2 separate regions of the Homo sapiens genome follow, and region 1 is linked to region 2. The links come from fine-mapping of genetic effects on gene expression. A gene starts in region 2. The other region holds a variant in brackets. All regions are shown on one strand. Distances are between the middles of the regions.

Region 1 (8,000 bases), 260 kb before region 2:
CTGTTAGCCATTCCTTCCAGTGGCCTTTCAATGTCTTCTTCTGATCTGCTATGGTCTGAACAAACCTTTTAACAAAACTTGCTAGAACTATGTATAAACAACAGAATCAGTCTATGGATAAGCACCTGTGGTGGCCTCCTTGAGTAAAATTTCTGAGTTTGATTATGTGGGATGTTTTTAGCTTTATCTTAGCTGCTAACAGGTCTTTTTGCTTCCTCCTTGAATCACGGTCATATTTTAGAATGATGAATTAGCGGGACAGTTAACACTGCAAATGTTTCCAAATAGTTTAAAATCTGTTTTGGCCCCAAAGGTGCATGGCCTGCCCATCGAAGTCTTTAAGGATAACTATTGCCAATTCTTTCAGATACACCAAAGATTTATTATCAGGCCCCAGTGATCCCTCACAATAATTTCTTTTCTGGCCAGCTCCCCAAAATGTCCTAACACACCAAAGTGCACTTTCTTTTTCTTTTCTTTTTTTTTTTGAGACAGAGTTTTGCTCTTGTCCAGCTGGAATGCAACAGCATGATCTCAGCTCACCGCAACCTCTGCCTCCCGGCTTCAAGCAATTCTCCTGCCTCAGCCTCCTGAGTAGCTGGGATTACAGGCACCAGCCACCACTCCTGGCTAATTTTTGTATTTTTAGTAGAGACGAGGTTTCACAATGTTGGCCAGGCCGATCTCGAACTCCTGACCTCAGGTGATTCACATGCCTCGGCCTCCCAGAGTGCTGGGATTATAGTCGTGAGCCCCTGCGCTCAGCCTCAAAGTGCACTTTCTTTGTGAACAACAACATCTACCTATATTACGTGTTTTAGATCCAACTATTCGGAGCAAATACAAAAAGAAAGTATGTACAAAATATTTTAAATATGTAAAATAAATAAATGTTCACTCGAACAGTATTTATTTGAACCCAAGCTCAATAATTTTTTATTCTTTATTTCCACAAATTTTGAACCCCCTTGTATCTATTATGATGTCCCCTCCCCTATTTGTAAATGACAACTGGCTGAACATCTTCATTCACATATTTGCCAACCCAAACAAAAAACTTACATGTTTGAATCTGGAATCCAGTGTGGCCCTGCTGGCGCCAGCCCTGCAGGTGAGGTGTCTTATGATTTGTTTGCTGGCTTCAGACTTTCCTGATCCCCTTTCTCCACTAAGGAAAACAGAGAGGAAAAACATAAGTTTGAAGGAACTTTGCTTCAAAGCTTGTTCCTTTGTTCCTTTGAAACTACTTTGAAGGAACAAGTAAAAAAATTAACTGGAGATATTTCTCAGACACAGAAATGAGGAGGGAATGGCACATCTACTTGCAATGAGTTTGTGGTCTCCGTTCACACTTCAATTTGATTCATTTGTCTGAAATACCCAGTATATGTTGACTGTGTCATGTCCCTGATGGTGTTTCAGATGCTGGCATTACAAATGAATATGACACAAGTTCTGCCATTCAGTATCTCACAGGGTAGAACCACCTAGTGTAGGTGAATTATGCCAGAAAGGTGTCAGGCTGAGAAGAAGACATAACCAACTTGACTCAGCTTAGCAAGTCAACATAAAGTGAGGCGATCCCGAGACAGCATGCTGTGTTGAGACATGCAGGCTCACACATGGCCTTGGGAAAACTGTTCATGCTTCATGGGCCTTACAGGAGAGACGTTACCTCTTCTGTGGAAAAGCTGTGACATCTTTCTGAGCATTCCTTCTCTGTTCTTTGAAATGAACATAAAGTGCCTAGCTACAAAAACTAAGGCAGTAAGGTCTTCAGATGTGGATCTGTCATTCCGCAGATCCTACTAAACCTGACCTGCTTAGGTTTCCTTTTCCGCTTGCTTTCAGTTCTGATGTTCTCTAGTTTGCATTTTTCTTTAATCTAGGAAAGATCACTGAACTTTTATTTATAAGGGCATCACTTTTAATACATCCCAGGCATACTTCATTAACTCACCCAATTTTTAAAAATGGTAAATATTATATTCCTGACACTATATGATATAGGATTGACATAAAATTCCCACAAAATAATTATTATTTCAAAGTGATGTGATCTACAATAAAGTTATTACTTCATCCAGATGAAAAATTCATAAAAACAGCCTTTACTTATTTGGTAACCAGAAAAACTTTTTAAAGCCCTTTTAGGAGAGCTTCCTTGGTTTTCTGCCTGGAAACATCTATTTTAACAAAGTTAATTAACAGTGTTTGCCAGAAAAGAAGTAAGTTGAAATTTAATTATTTGTTTAAAGTGTCGAGTCGTTAATGGATGCTTCCACTCACTTGTGCAGACTTTTGAACTACTGGGGCCTAAGAGTATCAACAAATGAGGTATTAAGTTAATATTAGAAAACAAAATGAAATTTTTTCTGGTCTGGTACTGAGTTTTGGGACATCCATTCCAGGACTACTTGCGTTTTGATTGCTAAATCTTAAATTACCCTTTGTAAGTGCTCGTTCTGGGACACAACTGACACTCAATAATGATCCGTTAACAACTTATTAAGTTGAATTTCAAATGGCTAATTTTATCATATTCGTAAAAATGGAGAAAGCATGTATCTTAGCCCACACAATCAAGGATGTGGCAAAGCTGTATGAAAGCACACACAATTTTGAAAGAAGAAAGAGAATCACTAAAACAGTAAGTCCTAGTAACCAGAGATTTGCTCTTCCATTCTGTATATCAGGACTAGCGATACCGAAAGGAGTTCTCCAGCTTGCTTCAGGCAGACAGTCAGGGAAGGGTCCCCCGAGAAGCTCCGACCCGCCCCACGAGTGCTTACGTCAGATGTTTTGTGCCGATAAGGGAACTTGCACAGGGGGCTTTGCCTAAACAAGCCTGCGGTGGAAGAGTCCGTTCCTTAGCACACGTGCAGCAAGGGAAATCAATCAATATGGAGCAGCTCGGCCTCAGCATGCGCACTGGAAGGACGGGGGGTGGAGCCGCCAGCAGTTTGCGCCCTAAGCTCTGGTGGTATTCAACTGAGAAGGGGGCACCAGGCACCCTGCTTCAGGACCCCTCTCTGCTGAGAGCTTCCCTTTCGCATAATAAATTCTACTCCACTTACTCTCTCGTGTCCGCACGCCTCATTTTTCCAGGTCGTGAGGCAAGAACCTGGACGTAGCCGAGCTAAGGAGCAAAATCCTGCATCAACACCTTCTTGAAACTTGAATGAAGAGGTATTTTTTCAAAATAAGGGGTTGGTACAGGGAATCATTAACTTTAAAAAATGACCCAAAGGAGGGCCGGGCGCGGTGGCTCACGCCTGTAATCCCAGCACTTTGAGAGGCTGTGGTGGGCGGATCACAAGGTCAGGAGATCGAGACCATCCTGGCTAACACGGTGAAACCTCGTCTCTACTAAAAATACAAAAAATTAGCCGGGCGTGATGGCGGGCGCCTGTAGTCCCAGCTATT[C/T]GGGAGGCTGAGGCAGGAGAATGACGTCAACCCGGGAGGCGGAGCTTGCAGTGAGCCCAGATCGCGCCACTGCACTCCAGCCTGGGCGACAGAGCGAGACTCAAGACTCCATATCAAAAAAAAAAAGACCCAAAGCAAAACTAGTTCTGCAGAATATATACTGGATAAAAAGTTCCATGAGCAAATACCTGTCAAAACTGTTGGGTTAAACTAAGATAAACGGGGTTCTTCATAAGAAAACTTGCTGGCCGCTGTGTGCCATCTCCCGGGCGGACTCCCAAAGCGCATGGGCCTGCTGCTCCTCCTTTTCTCCCCTTAGAGCCTTGCTCAGGACCCACGCTTTCAAAAACTGACCTATAACAGCTGCAATGATCATCCTAGAATTAAGTGGGAGCACTCAAAAGTTATGTAAATTCTAAAGAAATAAATAATACATAGAAATAATCTAGTCAAGGGTCTGGCAGCCAGTAAATTCTCAATAAACATTAGTTGTTATTGTCAACAGTGTTAAACTCTCCCTGTCTCACCAATTGACAGTGTTTTTTCTAAGCAACTTTTAAAAAGTTTTCCCTATTTATCAAAGGAAGACCAGGAAACTGGACAGACAAAGCAGATAAAAATAGGGTTGCCTGAGTCTAGAACGGGTGGAAGCCCCCATCTCTGCGCCTTTCTCATCCTTGAGTCCAGAATGAGTGGCCAGGTACAGTAGCTCACACCTGTAATCCCAGCACTTTGGCAGGCCGAGGCAGGTGGATCACCTGAGCTCAGGAGTTCGAGACCAGCCTGACCAACGTGGTGACACCCCCGACTCTACTAAAAATACAAAATTAGCCGGGCGTGGTGGCACATGCCTGTAATTCCAGCTACTCAGGAGGCTGAAGCAGGAGAATCACTTGAACCCAGGAGGCAGAGGTAGCGGTGAGCTGAGATTGTGCCATTGCACTCCAGCCTGGGCAACAAGAACGAAACTCCGTATCAAAAGAAAGAATGGGTGGAAGCCCCTGCCTTGGTGCCTTTCTCATCCTTGAGTCTAGAATGGGTTGGAGCCCCCACCTCAGTGCCTTTCTCATCCTCGTGTCTAGAATTGGTGAGAGCCCGTCTCAGCGTCTTTCTCTTCCTTTGAGTTTAGAATGGATGAGAGCCCCTGTCTCAGCATCTTTATCACCCTCGTGTCTAGAATGGGTGAGAGCCCCTGTCTCAGTGCCTTTCTCATCCTTGTGTCTAGAATGGATGAGAGCCCCTGTCTCAGAGCCTTTCTCATCCTCATGTCTAGAATGGGTGAGAGCCCCTGTCTCAGCGCCTTTCTCATCCTTGAGTTTAGAATGGGTTGGAGCCCCCGCCTCAGTGCCTTTCTCATCCTTGTGTCTAGAATGGGTGAGAGCCCGTGTCTCAGAGCCTTTCTCATCATTGAGTTTAGAATGGGTGGAAGCCCCTGCCTCGGTGCCTTTCTCATCCTTGTGTCTAGAATGGGTTGGAGCCCCCACCTTGACGCCCTTCTCATCCTTGTGTCTAGAATGGGTGAGAGCCCCTGTCTCGGCGTCTTTCTCATCCTTGAGCCTAGAATGGGCAGAAGCCCCTGCCTCAGTGCTTTTCTCATCCTTGAGTCTACAATGGGTGGAATTCCCTGCCTCAGCGCCTTTCTCATTTTTGAGTCTAGAATGGGTGGAATCCCATGCCTCAGTGCCTTTCTTATCCTAGAGTTTAGAATGTGTCGAAGCCCCTGCCTCAGCACCTTCCTCATCCTTGGGATGCATCTGAACCCAGCACGAAAACAACCGCTAGCATGCTGCTTTGAAAACTAGAAAACTAAAGTGTGCGCCCATCAGTCTGTCCCTCCACCCTCCATAGAATTTTTGATGAAATGCATATAAACATATAAGCTCTCATTTTAATATTTAAATAAGCCTTTTGAATTCTATCCAGGTTCTAACTTTATACCATTTTCATTTCACTTTGACTCGAGTTGTGTGCTACTGTACTTATCCGTTGAGTTCCAACCAGCACTACTGACAACAACTAAGGCGCTACCGTGAGTGAGTATTTATAGAGCTTTCCCTCCCTTGTAGAGGTTTGGCTGAATATAAAATATAGGTCTCTGATGCAGATTTTAACATTTAAATGTTTCTTTAATTTTCTATTAATTGGTGAGTTAAATCTAGCATTACATTTCAAATTCAAAAAATATTCTGGGCCAAATGCAGTGGCCCATGTCTGTAATCCCAGCACTTTGAGAGGCTGTGACAAGAGGATCGCTTGAGCCCAGGAGTTTGAGACCAGCCTGGGCAATATAGTGAGATCTCATCTCTACAAAAATTAAAAAATTAGCCAAGTGTGGTGGCATGTGCCTGTAGTCCCAGCTACTTGGGAGGCTGAGGTGGGAGGATCACTTGAGCCTTGGCTGCAGTGACTGGTGATCATGCCACTAAATTCCAGCCTGGGTGACAGAGCAAGACCCTGTCTCAAAAAAAAAAAAAAAGTTTAGGAAGTAGAGTACAGTGAATTGTGAGCAAAGGTAAATAACAAGAAACAGGCTGAGAAAACATACCTTTGGAAAGAAATAAAATGATATTTGGGGCAGCCCTGGATTTTGAAGAACAGTGGCTTAGGTTCCGTAATATTGGTAGTTTTTCTTTCTCCATGTTTTCTTAGGTTCAAAAGCAAAAACTTTTTATCTAAGCTTTAAATCTTCAAAAGGAAATGAGTTTCAGGTTAAGTTTATTAATATTGATCCAGCTACACTTGGGGCTACTCCTAACAGCCAAGATGTTTCTCCTTTGTAACGAGTCAAATGTACTTATTGCAAAGATATACTGGACCTCAAGGTGCTGAGAAAGTAAATAAAGGTAAACCATAGGAAATGAGTACATCTTTACTGCCAAGCCCCGTGGCAAACCTGAGCCTGGCAGACAAGGTTGAGGAGGACTCACCTGAGGATGAAACACTGAGGCCGCTGTTCCCGGAAGAGCTGGTGAAAGGCTCTCTCCACACAGGAGAAGAGGTGAGGAGGCAGCGAGGAACACAGCTTCCCTGAGGAGCTGAAATACAGCTGGGACACCTGGAAAACAGGGCAGCAGCAAGGGGAAAACCTCAGTGAAAAGGCGCCAGTATTCCTCATCCCATAATGAGAGTGACTTCTGTCCAAGATACAGAAGTGAATGAATCCCTAATTCTGAATCTCATTGGTATGTAAAAACATTTGTAAAATTACACCCTTCTCAGCACATTTTCAGCATGCATAATGACAAAATGGAGGCTTATACTTTATCCTTCATTACTTGGTCCACAGGCTTTAATTATTCTGCTGTCTTTAAGAAGAGCAACTCACAAAATATGTTCTTTAATAGATATCTGTGCAGTAAGCTGAAACTGTGGTAATTTACAACAAATACAATTTCTCTCAGCAGTATTTAATTTCAATACCATAAGATAGCCAAGGTTTTAAACTTGAATGTGAGAGGCAGTTGCAGCTGAAATGCATATAAGTTTACAAATTTCTCAGAAAAACAAAAATTAATTAATTTTAGAGAAACGGTGATTTATAATTATTGCCATAATGATTCATTTCCAGTAGTTTTAGTCCTTTTAAATTTCTAGTAAATTTTATTACTTTAGAATAAAAACTCAAGAGTAGGAAGACTTCTTAGTTGTGAAGAAATCAAAGTTATTTTTATTGTACAAAATAACTGGCCTGTATCTTCAAAGATGTCAAGGTCAGAAAAGTCAAAAGAAGACTGCAGAACTGGTCCATACTGAAGGAGAGTCAAGGGCATGGTGGTTCAAAATGCAACGTGCAGCGCTGGCCTGAATCTCTAGCTCTATGGGCATTACTGAGACAATGGGAAATCCTGAACGAGGTCTCTTGATTCAGTGACACCAGTGCATCAGTAATAATTTTCCCATTTTGATGACTGTAGGGAGGTTACACAGGAGAATACCTTTGTTTAAATACACAGTAAACATATTTAAGGTTGATGGGACCACATGCCAGAAAAGTATTTTAAAATGCTTGATGCTCAGGGATCTGCTATTAGTCTGATGGGCTTCTCTTTGTGGGCAAACTGACCTTTCTCTCTGGCTGCCCTTTACAGTTTTTCCTTCATTTCAACTTTGGTGAATCTGACAATTATGTGTCTTGGAGTTGCTCTTCTCAAGGAGTATCTTTGTGGCATTCTTTGTATTTCCAGAATTTGAATGTTGGCCTGACTCGCTATGTTGGGGAAGTTCTCCTGGATAATATCCTGAACAGTGTTTTCCAACTTGGTTCCATTCTCCTCGTCACTTTCAGGTACACCAGTCAGACATAGATTTGGTCTTTTCACATAGTCCCATATTTCTTGGAGGCTTTGTTCATTTCTTTTTACTCTTTTTTCTCTAAACTTCTCTTCTCACTTCATTTCATTCATTTGATCTTCAATCACTGATACCCTTTCTTCCACTTGATCAAATCGGCTACTGAAGCTTGTGCATGAGTCACGTAGTTCTCGTGCCATGGTTTTCAGCTCCATCAGGTCATTTAAGACCTTGTCTATGCTTTTTATTCTGGTTAGCCATTTGTCTAATCTTTTTTCGAGGTT
Region 2 (10,832 bases):
TAGAAAAGTGAGGAAAGCATTTTACTGGAGGTGGTGTTCATCAGCATGAGTGGCTTGAGGAAAAAAATGGGTTTTAACCTTGGTATCATAAAACATGTTTAATATGTGTGATCATTAATACTCAGTGTCAACTTGGTTGGATTGAAGGATGCAAAGTATTGTTCCTGGGTGTGTCTGCAAGGGTGATGTCAAAGGAGATTAACATTCAAGTCAGTGGACTGGGAGAGGCAGACCCACCCTCGATCTGGATGGACACCATCTGATCAGCTGCCAGTGCAGCTAGGATAAAAGCAGGCAGAGGAACATGGAAGAACCAGGCTGGCTGAGTCTTCCAGCCTACATCTTTCTCTCATGCTGGATGCTTCCTGCCCTTGAACATCAGACTCCAAGTTCTTCCGCTTTTGGACTCTTGGACCTTTGACCACAGACTAAAGGCTGCACTGTCAGCTTTCCTACTTTTGATATTTTGGGACTCTGACTGGCTTCCTTGCTCCTTAGCTTGCAGATGGCCTATTGTGGGACCTCACCTTGTGATTGTGTGAGTTAATTCTCCTTAATAAACTCCCCTTTATATATACATCTATCTTATTAGTTCTGCCCCTCAAGAAAGCCCTGACTAATACAACATATAAAGTAACAGATTTTCTGATACAATTCGTTCTTAGGTGTTGTAAATGAATTCTCAGCTCTGGAGAATATTCATTTTAAATAACTTTAACCTTCCTCCTGCTGCAAACAATGCTGCCCCAAACCCGTATGCTTAGAGAAGAGCTGAACCAGGAGAGAAATAGGTCAGGTGTAGTTATTGCAATGCTTCACCCCCAGAGGCACGTGAAGGGAACTCCACAGGTAGACCTCAAGCCTCCGCTTCAGTTCATTAAAACAAAAGTAGTTTCAAGTCTCACATGGCCTTAAAGTTCTGTGAGCCCATGACTCCCTTGAGTTCCATTTCTCATTTCTGCTTGCGCCTCAGCTGGGGCCTGGTCATGTTCATGTGTTACCTCTCAACAGGCATGGGGCTCTGAGACTGGCTCTCACTGCAGATCTGTCTAAAGCTACTTCTCAGCTACCAAGATACATGAAATGGCCACACTTTTTGCTGTGGTGTTCCTACACTTTCCTGCTATATCCTGCTTCCACAGTAAATTTTTACACTCTAGTTTTTAACCCTTCTCTAAAATAAAGTAAAAATGTTTTACAAAGTAACAGATATTATCATAAACTGGAGATAACAACTGTTAGATTAAGTTTCGACCTTGAAGCGTATAATTTTTTCACCTTAGATGATGAGTATTTTCCCAGGTGACTAACAGTTCCTTGCGAGCATTAGCTATTGGTCACCCAGCATCCCACCTGAAGGCTTCCTGTGATTCACTAGGAGCACATGGGATGCTAATGTTGCACATTTCAGAAGGTCCTGCTCCTGCCCTGGAATTCATCCACTTCCTGCATTGCTGTCTGGCTTGAAAGTGAACGTGCTATGGTGATAAATCTGGCTCAGAATGAAAGACAGATATGTGGTAGAAATGCAGGACAGGCGAAGAAGGAATGGAGTGTGACGAAGGCCGATGAACCTCGCCAGCAGATCAGCCCAATATGGGAGACAACAATTTGGGAAAATCTTACGCATCAGGAACAACCATTAAACCATGAATTATGATCCTTATCAATAAACCCTTAGGATACCATGAGGGCATTCACTCTTTTTTTTTTTTTTTTTTTTTGAGTTGGGGTTTTGCTCTTGTCACCCAGGCTGGAGTGCAATGGCGCGATCTCAGCTCACCGCAAGCTCCGCCTCCCGGGTTCAAGCAATTCTCCTGCCTCAACCTCCCAAGTAGCTGGGATTACAGGCTCCCACCACCACACCCAGCAAAATTTTGTATTTTTAGTAGAGACAGGGTTTCACTATGTTGGCCAGACTGGTCTTAAACTCCTGACCTCAGGTGATCCGCCTGCTTTGGCCTCCCAATGTTCTGGGATTACAAGCGTGAGCCATCACGCCCGGCCTTCTTCTATATTTTGTTCATCCTTCCAAGATATAGCTCAAGATGCATTTTTTTCATAAAACACCCTTCACTAGTTCAGCACAGAATGCAGTATAATTTCTGAACTCCTTAACACATCGCACCATTTCTCCAGTAAAGTTAGCATTTCATAATATTCATGCTTCCTTTCCATTTTATAGACTGTCACACTCAAAGCTTAGAAAGCAGTCAGATCTTTAGTAAGTAGTTGCTAATTACTTTCAGAAATGCATCAGGAATGTTTAAATTCATTAATTTTAGATTTCATCTCTTATACTAGCATGCTAAAAGAAATATCTCACAGGCTCCAATTGACATCACCAATTTTCTGAAATGTCTACAATTTTCCGAAATTCTACAATCAAATAATTCAACTAAAACAGAACAAAAGGCAGGAAAGGGCAGACTCATATTGTGTTTGGTGACCAACTGCTCCCTGAATCTCTCACGTCCATGTCACTGTCCCTTTGTGCTTCCACCCATGCTCCATGGCTGCCCTCCACCAGGTGTGTTCAATGTGTCTAATGAGCATCCAGGTTCCTTGTAGGAAAGATGCAGAGTTTTTCCTCTGCAGAGGCACAGCAAGGAAAATAATGACATTCTGCTAGTGCAGTAAAACACGAGAGGCAATACAAAAACCAGTCAGAGTATTGCCCTGTGTCTATTTCTCCAAGAAAATAACCCCAAGAGTTAACAGATTAAAGCAGAAGACTATTCTCAAAATTCTTAAATACGCTGCATGCCTCTAATTCTTATTAGTTAAAGAGCTAATCTGCAAACTTACGAGATGACCAGTGAATCCTTTTGGGAATTGAAATTGTTCTGCAACATGAAAGCATGACATTCTTGGCAATGCTTAAGAGTAAGGCATTTTTATTTCCATTAATCATAGTTTTAATTCCTGTATACATTCTCTACCAAAAATAAGAGAAAGGTAAATATTTTCACCTTCTCAATCATCATTATTTTTTTAGTCTCCTTTAGTGCAAAGCTCAAGATTCATTCAACACATGTGTTCCCTTAATATGCTGCTTCAATTTAACATTGTGATGTCCTTTGGCAGCAAAACCTTAAGCTTAAAAGAAAACCATTTTCTGCAAATGTCATCTGTCACTTTAAGATCATGATATATATGTACAGAAGTTTTCAGAAGTGCTGCAGGGGACAAAAATGTATATCCAGCAAGCCATTTTTGGATAAATATGTCTTCCTCTTCATTATTACCATCCAGAATTGGTTTAGATGGAAGTATTCTCTAGCTCAGAAAATTCTGCCAAAATTTCAGACGCTAAAGAAACCCTTGATAAGCCCAAAAGAGAACCTGGTGACAAACTAAATTTCACCATATGAACATCAGTGGAGAGCATTTGGTACAGAGTCCCTGGAGTCCCTAAGCACCGCAAGGTGAATGATACAAGGACAAAAGTTTACAGTCAAGGATAACCCTAAAGATCACACTTACAAAAAGCATTGAATAGAGGCTTAAGCAGTAAAACTTGAGACTAAAATACTAGCTAAATGACCTCAGCCATATATTAATAAACTTAGTTTTTATGTACTTTATTAACATGTGCCAATGAGCAAAAATATGCTTTTGTAATTTCTTTCCATGTGTTTCTGGTGTTTTTTTTTTTTTCTGGTTGCTGTGTCTATGAATCATTTTTTTTAAAAAGCTGAAGTTTTAAAGATCTCTGTGCTATTAGCATTTGGATCACACTGGAATTATTTCACAATCTAAAATTAAAAGGAAATATATCCAGCCTGTAAAATATTCTTCTAAGTCACCAGTCTATGTCACTCATCTGAATGTGGTATACCAGGAGAACTGCCTTAATTTTGGCATCTGCACAAAATAATACTTCAACAAGACAAATAACCACATGAGCAAGATATCAAGCTTACTTACAGCACTTGATAAAATGATAGTGAGACATCTTTCCATCTCAGACAGGAATCTTGCTACGGGTTCCAGCATTCTCTTCTGTCACAACTGTCGTTCCCAGGAAATGCATTACTTAAAGCCCTTACTCAGGTAACAGTTTACCTCAGGATGCACTATTGCATGGAGGCTCTGTTCCATGATCCTGCAAAAAGCTTCAAACTCATTCTCATTCGGCAGCTGGAGTTAAGATAAGCCTCTCCCCGGTGGGTCTTGAGGCACCACTGGTGCACGTGCTATTGTAGCACCCTTGATTGACACAGCCCCGAGTACCACAATCCCGGGAATAGTCAGCTCTAATTGGTGTTCACATGCAGCCACATTCTGCTGCACGGAGGTGTGCTGCAGTGCGGCTCTCCCGGTCCTGCCTGTTAATGGCTTTTCAATAGCTTTCAAATGGCAGCAAACTAAGCTGATGAGTGGGCTGGAGAGAAGCCACGGATAGAAGGATCCTAAATCTTCTTCGTGCACACTGTCCATCAGCCACATATGACCAGATTCTTAGCTGGTAGTAAAGCGGATTATTTTTAGTTGCCACCAGTTGCTGTGTGTGAATAGGAAATTGATAGCAGGAGCTTAAAATAGCCACCTCTTAGAATCAGAGATCTTTGATCTGTCCTTAGTAATGAAAAACTTGCATTATATTTCAAAACACATCTTTCTGCTTTTCTGAGCAGAATGTAAAACTTAAATTATCCACAAAAAGCTTTTGGTTTGCATAGCTTTAAAATTTAGGATTCTCCTACCTCTGCAGACTGCAATGAATTTAACTGTACAACCCAACTGGATGAAGTAAATCTGACTGAATTGGAATCAGAAAGAAATATATGGTCTGCTAGGGTTTATTGTTATAAAAGTGAATATCATACTCATAATGAAATAGCCATGGTAGCAAACCAAAAGGTTATATTTTAAGTTGTTTACAAATTCAAAGTGATACATTTTTTTTGCAAATTGATACATTTTTATGATGATCTTCTCCAAAGACAAGTTGACATAGTCTAGAATTTATGTTTCAGGTTTGAGGTTATAGGAAAGGTAAACATGAACAATATGTTAAGTGCACCCATCCTTCTGTGGCAGTAACATAATTTTGTATTCCTTACTGAACAAAACTCAAAGAGCAGTGCTTTTATTAAACTAGAAGATTATGAAATTCAAATCTATACAACAAGGGGTCATGACTATTACATTTTCACTGAATAATATTCTAACACATTTTAGTAGCGTGATGTAAAATAATAAGTTGAAGATTTCGCACAGAACAGCCTGATGTCAAATCCAGCTTCTACCACTTACCAGAGTATCAATGTAAACACATTATTTAACCTGCTAAAGCCTCAGTTTCCTCATCTATGCATGTGAAATATAATTCCTAATCTTTATTCTGAAGGTTAGAAATAATGCACATAAAATTTCTGGTTTCTGTTGTTGGTGTTCATTGAAAAGTTGTCATTAACATTAACAAGGAAAAAAACTTATGTATGTACCAAATGATGATTATGGACGCTTTAACTTGGCTTTTCCAAAAATTAGAATGAGGATTTGCAGCCTTCATCAGGAATGCTGATTCCTCATTTATTCGTTGATTCCACAATTAATTATTGAGAGTCACTGTCACAAAAGTCACCATTTTGGGTGCTTTTCAGGAATAAAATATGTCTAAAACAGAGCCTTTATATACCAGGAATCTATAATGTATTTTTAAAGGGTTTCTTGGATGTTTTGTAATGTTTCAATAAAACTGTAAGACACAACTATATCTGTTTCCAACACGGGAAGTAAAGCTCTCTCCTCTTTAAATCAATACAAATCTTTACATGTGCATAAAATAACTGTGAATTTATGTGAATGTTATCTAATGTATCTTCGGGTAAGGTTGTATCCATGTAGATGTCCCTACCCCCTTCTCTTAATACAATGCCGGATAAATAGTATGTTGCCTATATACCTTCCTTAAATGTCTGAATGTCTTAATTTTCTGCAAATTGCATGCCTCTGCATGTATACAAACTCAGCAAACATCTTAAGACAATTGAGTTTAATGATACCATTCACTCTTTAAACTGAAAAAAAGCATAACACTCAGAGGGGCATGTTGTGCACTTGACAAAGAAAATATGTTATTAAAAATATAATTGATTTGAGCCCTACTTTTTTCAATAACTTAAGGCATTTCTTATAAGAACTTTAACCAAGGTACCCCGTGAGAATTAACATCTCATCTCCAGGGGCTCATTATCAAATGTGTTTATTTTTCATCGACTCATGTATTCCATAAACATTTGGCAACTCTTTGTGCTATAAGAGAAACTTGACTCCCTGACCTCAAAGTGCTTATCGTCAGATGAAATAGAGACAATCAAGATAGCACAGTGTTGTGTGCTAGAAACTGTAAGACTACAAATGTAGACCTCTAAAACAACAAGAGCCAACATCTAATCCACTTTGAGGAGTTGAAGGAGGATACACTGAGAAATGTATTCACAGATTTCTTAAACTACTTAGAATGTGCTTTCTATGTATAAACTGTATCTACATATAATTTCCCCAGATTAAGAAGCCCTTTTATCTTTTTGTCTTTGAAACCACATACTCATGCTCTAAACATTGGTAGAACTATGTTTAAACCTATTTACATATTTCATCACTACAAAACAAAAATTAATTTCTAATGCAGGCATTAATACTGAGGAAAATAATTTTGGTTCCATTAACTTTACTTCCTTCATAAAATTTTTTAAAAATGGTAACTTGAAGTTGATTAAAATTTCCTCCTCTATATCCATCCCTGAGAAACTCAACTCACTGTTGGGTGGTCAGAACAATAATTTCAGGACTCCTTCAATCATATATATATATAATATATAATATATATATTATATACAATATATATTTTTATATATATTATATATAGCTATATATAATATATATAATATACATATATACATAAAATATACATATATACATGTATAATATACATATATATATATACACACACATATATATTTTTCTTTTCTTTTATTTTCTCTTTTGAGATGGAGTTTCTCTCTGTCACCCAGGCTGCAGTGCAATGGCGCGATCTTGGCTCACTGCAACCCTCTGCCTCCCGGTTTCAAGCAATTCTCCTGTTTCAGCCTCCCAAGTAGCTGGAATTACAGGCACCCACTACCATGCCCAGCTAATTTTTGTAGTTTTAGTAGACATGAGATTTCACCATGTTAGTCAGGCTGGTCAGGCTTGACCTCAGGTGAGCCACCTGCCTTGGCTTCCCAAAGTGCTGGGATTACAGGCATGAGCCACCATGCCCGGCTAAATCTTATATTTTAAATATGGTATCAGAGTTGATGACAGTAGCAAGAAATGACCAAGGCTAAATTAAATATATGGTTAGCAATTTATCTATTTTGCAGAATATGGTCATTAAGTACAAAATTAAATCCATGCGTTCGAAAGAGGGTATTGTTTTGCATTTCCAGAAAATTTTCAAACGCATAAAGCACAATTATTTTATTATTTTTCAGTATTATTACAATGAACTATTGTTCTTTCCAAATACGAATGCATAATATTTCAAACTCATTTTTGAATAATCAAGAAACCCCTTTTTCTCTTTTATACACCATACAGCTGCTCATTATTCACACTATTTCTGATATGAACACATGATTTTTTTTCTCTTAAATGTTAGCATTATTATACACCAGATTTTTTCAAATAAGGCTAAATTATTTCCCAGCCAAAAACAAAAAAAGAAACTGCAATGATTCTAATGAGAGATAAGCATTCAAAAGTTAGAAATTGCTTAGTAAATATCTTTTAAAATGGGATACATGAGACACAGCTCCAAAAAGGCCCCAGGTGAGATACTACTTAATGTTTTCATTTAAAACCTATTTGGACAATGTAAAACATGTAGTTTCATAATGCCAGTCTGCTGACAGATAATTCCTAATCTAATAGTGCCTGCATTGACATGCTTTATTAAATGAAGAAATTAAAACTAAAGTTTGCAAACATCACCAATTTGGGAAAGGTACGTATTAACAGTAGGTCATGACAAAAATTCTAAATGAAGATATAAATCACACACAACAGTTTTTTGTTATGCAAATTTAAGCTCTGTGATGGGGCATCATTGCCTCTGCCCTGTGAATAGGTTGGGGCTTATAAATATTAGCCTTTGATGAAGTAAATTACACACATTTAGAGACCTTGAGCCACAGGTGTCTCACACACAATGGCTGACAGCTAAATTTATAATTTCCTCTATCACAAATATTGACTGCTTCTGGGTGAATGGAGTCAAGACCTCTCCTGGGAACATAACTCCGGTCTAATAACTTAGGGTCCTTTGAGGCTGAAGCCTACAGAGGAGAAAATATCTGAGTTGTCAAAAAATAAGGCATAAATACACTCAGCTCTTGCTATAGAATCAGCCTCTGGTCAACCCCTGGTGCCTCAGGACCAGGATCAAGCCTACCTTGAATGACTGAACATCCTTGACTCTCTCATAAAGTCCCTGATCTCAGTCTAGTGACTGTGGAGGTTGTTCCTGATTTTGGCCTGCCTGTGAAACCACTAGCTCTCGGATTCAGGACTCCACAGGGCTGTGTGTTCACTTCAGCTTCACGTAGTCTCACATTTCTCCAACCAGAACAAACGGACATTCAAGTTAGATGTGGGCAATTGTGAAGTAAATGAGAAGAAATTTACAATACAGACTTGCACAGTTGGAAAGAAGTAGGGGTTAATAGGAACTGCCCTCTCCATGTCAGAGGGCAGTGAGGGCTAACCCAGCTGAGCCCTGCTTTAGTGACTAAAAGTGAATTTGTCATATAACGGCTAGAAAATATCCCTGGTTATTCAAATACTTTCATAGAGTACTGATGTAGAAAAGAAATGCAATTTTAAAAACTGCTTCAAAAAGACTGAAAATTACTCTCTGTAATACAATATAGATTAATATAATAGCAAATACATGCATGTGCATTGATATGGATATATGAAGATACACACACACACACACACACACACACACACACACACACACACTCAGGCTATATGGGATGTTCTAATTGCTCCTTAAGGGCATTTGGCCACCCACTTCCTTTGGTGATTTTTTTCCCTAATCAAAATGAAATGTTTTAAATTCTAGTGAGGACCAGTTAAACTGGGTATCTAAAGCAGGACATTTGTAAAGCATTTGTAAGGTTTTTCACTTGAATCCGAACAACCACTTTGAAATCTTTCCAGCATATGCGTTACAACTATCTAGGAAGACTTTTCCATTTCAGGTGTTTGACCTTGGACAAAAGTTTGCATATCTTAATGGTGAATAAGAAACAGACCGTTTTGTTTTATGTCTGTATGACTCTACCTAGGTTTATGTGCACATGTGTGATATGGATGAATATGAGCACATGAATAATTAAGTATTCTTTGCCTTGTTCTTCAATCAGTTTGAGGGAATAAATAGTATACTGCAACCAGTTACCAGGAATAGGCAGATAAAAAAAAATTTATTGATGACGAAGCAAGTTTAGCGATTACTGTTGGCCTAAATAAGACAGCTGGGACACCAGGCTGAAATGTTTGAACAGATCTCTATACATTTGTCATTTAGAAGACAATATCTGAAAGTTTTTTGATGATCTAAAAGATATTCTTAATTTTCCCAAAAAGGATGAAAGGAATTGTGAGGCAATTAAATAAGAAGCCTCTCCTTCATACTTTTCCCATTGATATACATGGATTTTTTAAACAAAATATGCCTCTTTAGTTGAATCATGCTCTTATTTACAATTTAATCACACTAAGTTACCTATTCAAATTCCATGCATTCTTCAAATTTACTTCAAGCCCATTTAATCTACAAACTGTTCTTGATTTTTTTATTGCTTAAATTATTCCTGACCTTCTCTAAAGCTTATATTCATTTTTTTCATGTACCAGTCAATCCAGCATTTATAATGCAATGCTTTGCATTTTTCTTAACTAGTTATCATAGGGAAGGCTCTTCCTAGGTAGGTAACTCGTTATTTGAGTCTCAGACCTTCTACTTTTCCTATTTCCTATGAAGTCCAAAACATTAGTGAACATTCAGAGATCAACAAAGGGAGAGCCAGAGAATTAGAATTGCTCTAAAGCATTTTCTGGTGCATGACATATAATGTCTTGAGGAATATTTTATTAAAGGCAGGATTATTGAACACTTAAGTAAACATAACTTACCATACATGACAGGAGAAGAAGAAAGAAATGAAGTGGAGTATAGCCCCTTCTTCATTCAAGCATGTAGGTACAAGTAGACTGAGTGTATATTGTTTTTCAATATCCCCCATGAAGGCGCCATTAAAACGGATCATAGGGAGATCTGGCTGCAAGTTTGACTTTCTTCTTCTAAATGAATTCCCTTGTTGCTAATTTTCTTTGAGTGACAATGGATACAATATAGTCACTAGAGAGGTTCCCAAAATTTAACAATATTTTAAGGTGTTCTAGAAAAAGAATGTACACTGAAATATCCAAATTCACAAATGACATTAAATTATTTCTCCAAACTGAAGTCTCAGGCCTTTTGGATAAGTTTAAGTAGCCCTCATTGTTACGATATTGTTCTCCATAAATATTTTCTCCTATCTGCACAGTTTGGGCTGTCAGAGGAAAGAGCATTGGCAGCCTTGGTTAAATGGTGATTACATAAAAGCATACCTTGGAAGCTGGACGTCGTGTGTGTAGCTCTGAAGCAATTTGGAGAATTACCTCCCAGGCCCATGGGCTTATATTTCAGGGTGATAAGCCTGGAGACTTTCTCTTTTCTTCTCCAAGAGAAAATTTGTTTCCTTTTCTCTCTCTCACTCTTTCTC

Which allele goes with the higher level. Alleles are on the strand shown, and positions count from the first base shown. SD is a standard deviation of normalised expression in the study named.
With allele T in place of C in region 1, the expression in testis of the gene that starts at base 4,192 in region 2 is lower (moderate effect, 0.63 SD a copy in GTEx).

Evidence for each region. PIP is the estimated chance that this variant, and not a neighbour inherited with it, causes the effect.
Region 1: its variant is fine-mapped to the expression of MYO16 in testis (GTEx, PIP above 0.99).

The regions. Positions count from the first base shown.
Region 1 is chr13:108,881,540-108,889,539 of GRCh38, reverse strand. MYO16 (myosin XVI) reads right to left here. Exons shown (of 35, transcript NM_001198950.3): 13 at 6,354-6,481; 14 at 1,063-1,168. Among named protein-coding and RNA genes, the nearest start is that of MYO16-AS2, 220 kb to the left of the region's middle. The variant C/T (reference allele first, on the strand shown) is at 3,427.
Region 2 is chr13:108,622,971-108,633,802 of GRCh38, reverse strand. It overlaps MYO16 (myosin XVI), which reads right to left and starts at 4,192. Exons shown (of 35, transcript NM_001198950.3): 1 at 3,931-4,192. The coding sequence starts at 3,958.